2 linked regions of the Homo sapiens genome follow. The protein of the gene in region 1 interacts with the protein of each later gene in a biochemical or structural test. Each region holds a gene or a part of one and is shown in the gene's direction. Other genes may lie near its edges.

The links. The genes of interacting proteins can lie anywhere in the genome.
Region 2: the proteins of BCL2 (region 1) and BAD form a complex in vitro, tested with the Homo sapiens proteins (5 studies listed by BioGRID and IntAct, with this or other methods).

The regions. Positions count from the first base shown.
Region 1 is NC_000018.10:63,318,331-63,322,076, reverse strand, and holds the start of BCL2 (apoptosis regulator Bcl-2), read left to right. Parts: upstream 1-2,307; 5' UTR 2,308-2,903; exon of another isoform or gene 2,904-3,124; 5' UTR 3,125-3,410; coding exon 3,411-3,746. UniProt on the Homo sapiens protein: Suppresses apoptosis in a variety of cell systems including factor-dependent lymphohematopoietic and neural cells. Regulates cell death by controlling the mitochondrial membrane permeability. Appears to function in a feedback loop system with caspases.
Region 2 is NC_000011.10:64,271,006-64,274,751, reverse strand, and holds part of BAD (bcl2-associated agonist of cell death), read left to right. Parts: intron 1-2,948; coding exon 2,949-3,139; intron 3,140-3,746. UniProt on the Homo sapiens protein: Promotes cell death. Successfully competes for the binding to Bcl-X(L), Bcl-2 and Bcl-W, thereby affecting the level of heterodimerization of these proteins with BAX. Can reverse the death repressor activity of Bcl-X(L), but not that of Bcl-2.

The DNA.
Region 1 (3,746 bases):
AGTTCGAGTCCAGCCTGGGCAACATAGCAAAAGCCATCTCTTAAAAAAAAAAAAAAAAGGCCAACTAAGTAAAAATTAAAAAAATCATAATTTGGTGTGCTTTTCTGGCTTTTTAAAGAATGTTTTGATTTTAGAGTAGGAATGAGACAAAATAAAGATGTCAGGCAGGGCACAGTGGCTCATGTCTGTAATCCCAGCACTTTGGGAGGCTGAGGCAGGCGGATAACGAGGTCAGGAGTTCGAGACCAGCCTGGCCAGTATGGCGAAACCCCGTCTCTACTAAAAATACAAAAATTAGCAGAGCGTAGTGGCGTGCACGTGTAATCCCAGCTACTCAGGAGGCTGAGGCAGAATTGCTTGAGCCTGGGAGGCAGAGGTTGCAGTGAGCTGAGATCGCACCACTGCACACCAGCCTCCAAGATACAACAGAGCAAGACTCTGTCTCAAAAAAAAAAAAAAAGTCATAGCATATTTGTACACATTGTAGTACTCATTTGTCATCTTTCTTGACCCCAATAATCCAGTGTCCCTATATATTTGCACTCGAGCCCTATTAAGTAAGCCGCTGTGCTTCTAGAAGACCTTTTTCTTTTCTTGGTGCTTTGTCAAAGACTCTTGGAGATAAAAATACACACGTGCAACTTGTTTGTCCTCTTGTCCTTTTTTGCTAGGGGCTATTCATGCTGATTAATTTAAAACTGTCTGCTTGCGCGTACACACGTCTGCGAGTGTGAATGTGTATGTGTGTATCTATGTACCTCATTTGAGAAAGTGCGGCCAACTAGGATTGGCTACGAGGCAAAGGTGGAGACCTTTAGGAGCCCACCCACCCCAGCGTTAGGACGGTGGGCCTGAAAGTTACTATATGGAAGTCCTCATCGTGTAGCACTAAACCAGTGTAAAAGGTGTTAGGGACAGAGGGAAAACATTGACTTAAACTGTCGTAAAGCCCTTGATAAACCCCTTCCCTGGAGCGCTGAGTTCTGCATGGCCTGGGCCACGGACTAGGTGTTCAGGTGGACACGGGCGGGGATGCGCGTGCGTGTGTAGTGCGCGGACACCTAGGAAGCTACTTGAAAGTAAACACCACGCTCGGGGCGTCCCTAGACATTGCTTAAAACGTGCAGAGTCACCTGTCTTCACAGCAGGGCAGCGCTGAGGTCCCACTGCTGGGGGCGGTGGGGGGCGGCATTGGCCTGGGTCTTCCCCCGGCGGCCGAGCGCCGGTAACACAACGTGTGTGTGTGTAGGCGCGTGTACACACTCTCATACACGGCTAGAAAGGGTCCAGGCGACACACACACTCCCACATACACGGCTAGAAAAGGTCCAGGCGAGACACACACACACACACACACACACACACACACTCCACACACACTCACACGGCCAGAAAGGGTCCAGGCGGTTCCCGGCGCTTTTCCAGCCCTTGTTTTCATGGCGCACCCTCCCGCCAGCCGCCCCCCTCCGCACTCCGTCGTCCGCCCGGCCCGGCCGCGTGCGGTTCCCCGGGAGCCCCCACCCCGTCGCGGACCCCAGCGACCACCAAGTCCGCACGCGGCCTGCCGCAGGCCTGAGCAGAAGGCCCCGCGCACACCCACCGCGCCGCGGCCGCGCGGGAGGCCTGTGCCGCCCGCGCCACCCACTGGCCGGGCCCCGCGGGCGCAGCGGAGCGGGCGGGTGGCCGGCCCGGACGCGCCCTCCCCGGCCGCGGCCCCGCGCGCCATGTGCCCCCGGCGGGACGCGCCACTCCCGGGCCTGCCGCGGCGCCTTTAACCCGGGCCAGGGAGCGGGGCGGAGGGGGCGGTCGGGTGGCTCAGAGGAGGGCTCTTTCTTTCTTCTTTTTTTGAATGAACCGTGTGACGTTACGCACAGGAAACCGGTCGGGCTGTGCAGAGAATGAAGTAAGAGGACAGGCACCACAGCCCCGCTCCCGCCCCCTTCCTCCCGCGCCCGCCCCTCCGCGCCGCCTGCCCGCCCGCCCGCCGCGCTCCCGCCCGCCGCTCTCCGTGGCCCCGCCGCGCTGCCGCCGCCGCCGCTGCCAGCGAAGGTGCCGGGGCTCCGGGCCCTCCCTGCCGGCGGCCGTCAGCGCTCGGAGCGGGCTGCGCGGCGGGAGCTCCGGGAGGCGGCCGTAGCCAGCGCCGCCGCGCAGGACCAGGAGGAGGAGAAAGGGTGCGCAGCCCGGAGGCGGGGTGCGCCGGTGGGGTGCAGCGGAAGAGGGGGTCCAGGGGGGAGAACTTCGTAGCAGTCATCCTTTTTAGGAAAAGAGGGAAAAAATAAAACCCTCCCCCACCACCTCCTTCTCCCCACCCCTCGCCGCACCACACACAGCGCGGGCTTCTAGCGCTCGGCACCGGCGGGCCAGGCGCGTCCTGCCTTCATTTATCCAGCAGCTTTTCGGAAAATGCATTTGCTGTTCGGAGTTTAATCAGAAGAGGATTCCTGCCTCCGTCCCCGGCTCCTTCATCGTCCCCTCTCCCCTGTCTCTCTCCTGGGGAGGCGTGAAGCGGTCCCGTGGATAGAGATTCATGCCTGTGCCCGCGCGTGTGTGCGCGCGTGTAAATTGCCGAGAAGGGGAAAACATCACAGGACTTCTGCGAATACCGGACTGAAAATTGTAATTCATCTGCCGCCGCCGCTGCCTTTTTTTTTTCTCGAGCTCTTGAGATCTCCGGTTGGGATTCCTGCGGATTGACATTTCTGTGAAGCAGAAGTCTGGGAATCGATCTGGAAATCCTCCTAATTTTTACTCCCTCTCCCCGCGACTCCTGATTCATTGGGAAGTTTCAAATCAGCTATAACTGGAGAGTGCTGAAGATTGATGGGATCGTTGCCTTATGCATTTGTTTTGGTTTTACAAAAAGGAAACTTGACAGAGGATCATGCTGTACTTAAAAAATACAAGTAAGTTCTCTGCACAGGAAATTGGTTTAATGTAACTTTCAATGGAAACCTTTGAGATTTTTTACTTAAAGTGCATTCGAGTAAATTTAATTTCCAGGCAGCTTAATACATTCTTTTTAGCCGTGTTACTTGTAGTGTGTATGCCCTGCTTTCACTCAGTGTGTACAGGGAAACGCACCTGATTTTTTACTTATTAGTTTGTTTTTTCTTTAACCTTTCAGCATCACAGAGGAAGTAGACTGATATTAACAATACTTACTAATAATAACGTGCCTCATGAAATAAAGATCCGAAAGGAATTGGAATAAAAATTTCCTGCATCTCATGCCAAGGGGGAAACACCAGAATCAAGTGTTCCGCGTGATTGAAGACACCCCCTCGTCCAAGAATGCAAAGCACATCCAATAAAATAGCTGGATTATAACTCCTCTTCTTTCTCTGGGGGCCGTGGGGTGGGAGCTGGGGCGAGAGGTGCCGTTGGCCCCCGTTGCTTTTCCTCTGGGAAGGATGGCGCACGCTGGGAGAACAGGGTACGATAACCGGGAGATAGTGATGAAGTACATCCATTATAAGCTGTCGCAGAGGGGCTACGAGTGGGATGCGGGAGATGTGGGCGCCGCGCCCCCGGGGGCCGCCCCCGCACCGGGCATCTTCTCCTCCCAGCCCGGGCACACGCCCCATCCAGCCGCATCCCGGGACCCGGTCGCCAGGACCTCGCCGCTGCAGACCCCGGCTGCCCCCGGCGCCGCCGCGGGGCCTGCGCTCAGCCCGGTGCCACCTGTGGTCCACCTGACCCTCCGCCAGGCCGGCGACGACTTCTCCCGCCGCTACCGCCGCGACTTC
Region 2 (3,746 bases), on another chromosome or scaffold:
CCTCCTGGGTTCAAGTGATTCTCCCGCCTCAGCCTCCTGAGTAGCTGGGATTACAGGCTCGCGCCACCACACCTGGCTAATTTTTGTGTTTTTAGTAGAGACAGGGTTTCACCATGTGGGTCAGGCTGGTCTCGAACTCCTGACCTCGTGATCCACCTGCCTTGGGCTCCCAAAGTGCTGGGATTACAGGCGTGAGCCACCACACCTGGCCTTTTTTTGTATTTTTAGTAGAGATGGGTTTTTGCCATGTTGGGTCAGGCTGATCTCGAACTCCTGGCCTCAAGTGATCCACCTGCCTTGGCCTCCCAAAGTGTTGGGATTACTGGCGTGAGCCACTGCGCCTACTTGCTTTTTTTTTTTTTCTCGAGGTAGAGTTTCACTCTGTCACCCAGGCTGGAGTGCAGTGGCGTGATCTCAGCTCACTGCAAGCTCCGCCTCCCGGGTTCACGCCATTGTCCTGCCTCACCCTCCCGAGTAGCTGGAACTAAGGCGCCAGCCACCATGCCCAGCTAATTTTTTGTACTTTTAGTACAGATGGGGTTTCACCGTGTTAGGATGGTCTCGATCTCCTGACCTCGTGATGCGCCTGCCTCGGCCTCCCAAAGTGTTGGGATTAAAGGCGTAAGCCACCGCACCCGGCCACCTACTTGCTTTCTTAGTCATGTGTCTCATTTATGTGTCCTAGCTGGGACCCCTGGAGGCCCTGCACTGGCCCACAGGCCAGGTCCTCAGGTCCTCTGAGGGGAGAAGAGACATTCCAATGGTTATCCCCCGCCTTCAGTTCCTGGCCTGTAATTTACCTCCTCCAAAGAGCCTCCCTGACAGACATATCTTGCCATAAACACCCAGCATGTTTCCCTACCTGCCTCTCTTTTTTTTTTTTTTTTTTTTTTTTTGAGATGGGTGCAGTGGCGTGATCTTGGCTCACTGTAACCTCTGCTGCCCAGGTTCAAGCGATTCTTCTGCTTCAGCCTCCCGAGTAGCTGGGATTACAGGTGCCTGCCACCGCGCCTGGCTAATTTTTTTGTATTTTTAGTAGAGACGGGGTTTTACCATCTTGGTCAGTCTGGTCTTAAACTCCTGACCTCGTGATCTCCCCAACCTCGGCCTCCCAAAGTGCTGGGATTACAGGCGTGAGCCACTGCGCCCAGCCCCCCACCTGCTTCTCACTCTGTCATTGCACTCTGAGTGTTTGCTCAGGGGAGTGGTTCTAAGTCTTTATCGGTCTGGGTAGAGGAGTGGAGTTGGCAGGAGTTGGGAGATGGCACAGAGCACAGTTCAAATAGACCATAGTAGGCGGGCCTCTGAATAATAACCCATAGTGCACTTGCAGCCTACAAAGCACTTTCTTTTTTCTTTTGTTATTATTATTATTATTTGAGACAGAGTCTCGCTCTGCCACCCAGGCTGGAGTGCAGTGGCACAATCTCGGCTCACTGCAACCTCCACCCACTGGGTTAAAGCAGTTCTCCTGCTTCAGCCTCCTGAGTGGCTGGGACTACAGGCGTGAACCACCACACCTAACTAATTTTTGTATTTTTAGTAGAGACGGAGTTTCACCAGAGTTTGAGGCCAGGCTGGTCTCGAACTTCTGACCTCAGGTGATCCACCTGCCTTGGCCTCCCAAAGTGCTGGGATTACTGGCGTGAGCCACCACGTCTGGCCTTCTTTTATTAATTTTTTAAATTAATAGAGATGGGGTTTTGCAATGTTGCCTAGGCTGGTCTCGAACTCCTGAACTCAAGCAATCCACCTGCCTCAGCCTCCCAAAGTGCTGGGATTACAGGCGTGAGGAATCACGCCCAGCCACAAAGCACTTTCACATTTTTTAATTTTATGTGATGTTCACACAGCCACTGGGAGTCAGGGCTAGGATTATCCCCTCATAAAGGTGAGGACACAGGCTAAGAGAGTCGAAGGCTGGCTAGACAAGGGGAGAGACACAGAGCTCCGCTGATCATCACTGGACTCTGGATTCCACCAAACCTTTGGAACCTTCCAGCCTCAGGCCTCCACAGCTTCACAGAAACTGGGCAAGTCTTAACTCTCTAAGCTTCTGTCTTCTCACCTAAGCATGTTTGGTACTCACCTCCCAGGGTGGTTAGGAGGATAATAAGGGAATGTCTCGGCCTACACGTAAGTGCACCATCAATGGTACCTAAAAACGTCAACAGTTCCAGACACTGTCTCCAGAGAAGGCTCTGTGGGGGATGCGGACATGTAGCGGCCAAGTTCTTGTTCTCCAGGGGCTCTGCAGGTCCCTTGCAGAGGAGGCATTCAATCCTGCCGGCTGTGGCAGGACACTTTCCTATCCAAGGGATTGGCTTCCTCCGATGTAGAACAGACACTATGAAATAGCTACCAACCCAGGGGTTGCCAGGAGGCCCCATGAAGGTCTTGCACTAATAATACTTCTTGCTTTTTTTTTTTTTCTTTTGAGAAAAAAAGCCTGTCGCCCAGGCTGGAGTGCAGTGGCGTGATCTCGGCTCACTGCGACCTCTCCCTCCTGGGTTCAAACGATTCTTCTGCCTCAGCCTCCCGAGTAACTGGGACTATAGGCACGTGCCACTATGCCCAGCTAATTTTTGTGTTTTGAGTAGAGACAGGGTTTCACCATGTTGGCCAGGATGGTCTCGATCTCCTGACCTTGTGATGTAACTAGTATTTCTTATGCCCTTATTTTGTGCTAGGCACAGGGCCTCACCCATTATTGGCACTCGGTAAGGATTCGTGGGATTAATGAGAAGTTAACCTAAATCTTCACCAAAGGCCCCTGAGCTTCCCCTCGATTCACATACAAGGGACTGGGGCTCTGAGAGGTGGGCTGTGATGCGCCCCTGGAAGACCCACGAGTGGGCCTGCAGAGCTGATGGGGAGGGTTCAGGCAGGGCCAGGGGCTTAGAGGAGCTGAGATTAACGTCGCCCCCCTACCCACTGACCCTCTGCAGGCGCTGGGGCTGTGGAGATCCGGAGTCGCCACAGCTCCTACCCCGCGGGGACGGAGGACGACGAAGGGATGGGGGAGGAGCCCAGCCCCTTTCGGGGCCGCTCGCGCTCGGCGCCCCCCAACCTCTGGGCAGCACAGCGCTATGGCCGCGAGCTCCGGAGGATGAGTGACGAGTTTGTGGACTCCTTTAAGGTGAGCGCCAGTCCCCAGCGTGCCAGGACCTGAAGTACCAGGCCGCCCCCCGCCGGTCTGTCCCTGCCTTGTCCCAAGGCACGCCCGGATCTGGAGTCCCACGACCCCTCCCCAAAGCCGTCCTGTTCCTTCCTAGCTCCAGAGCATTCTGGGATTTGTAGTCACAAGACTTCCCCGCCCCCACTCCCCAGCTCTTCCCCCGCCTGGTGTGTGTGTGTGTGTGTGTGTGTGAGTCACAGGGCATGCTGGGATCTGTAGTCTAGATCCCACTCCAGGCGTGTGTGTGTGTGTGTGTGTGTGTGTGTGTGTGTGTGTGAGAGTCACAGGGCATGCTGGGATCTGTAGTCTAGATCCCACTCCAGGCGTGTGTGTGTGTGTGTGTGTGTGTGTGTGTGTGTGTGTGTGAGTCACAGGGCATGCTGGGATCTGTAGTCTAGATCCCACTCCAGGTGTGTGTGTGTGTGTGTGTGTGTGTGAGAGAGTCACAGGGCATGCTGGGATCTGTAGTCTAGATCCCACTCCAGGTGTGTGTGTGTGTGTGTGTGTGTGTGTCAGTCACAGGGCATGCTGGGATCTGTAGTCTAGATCCCACTCCAGGCGTGTGTGT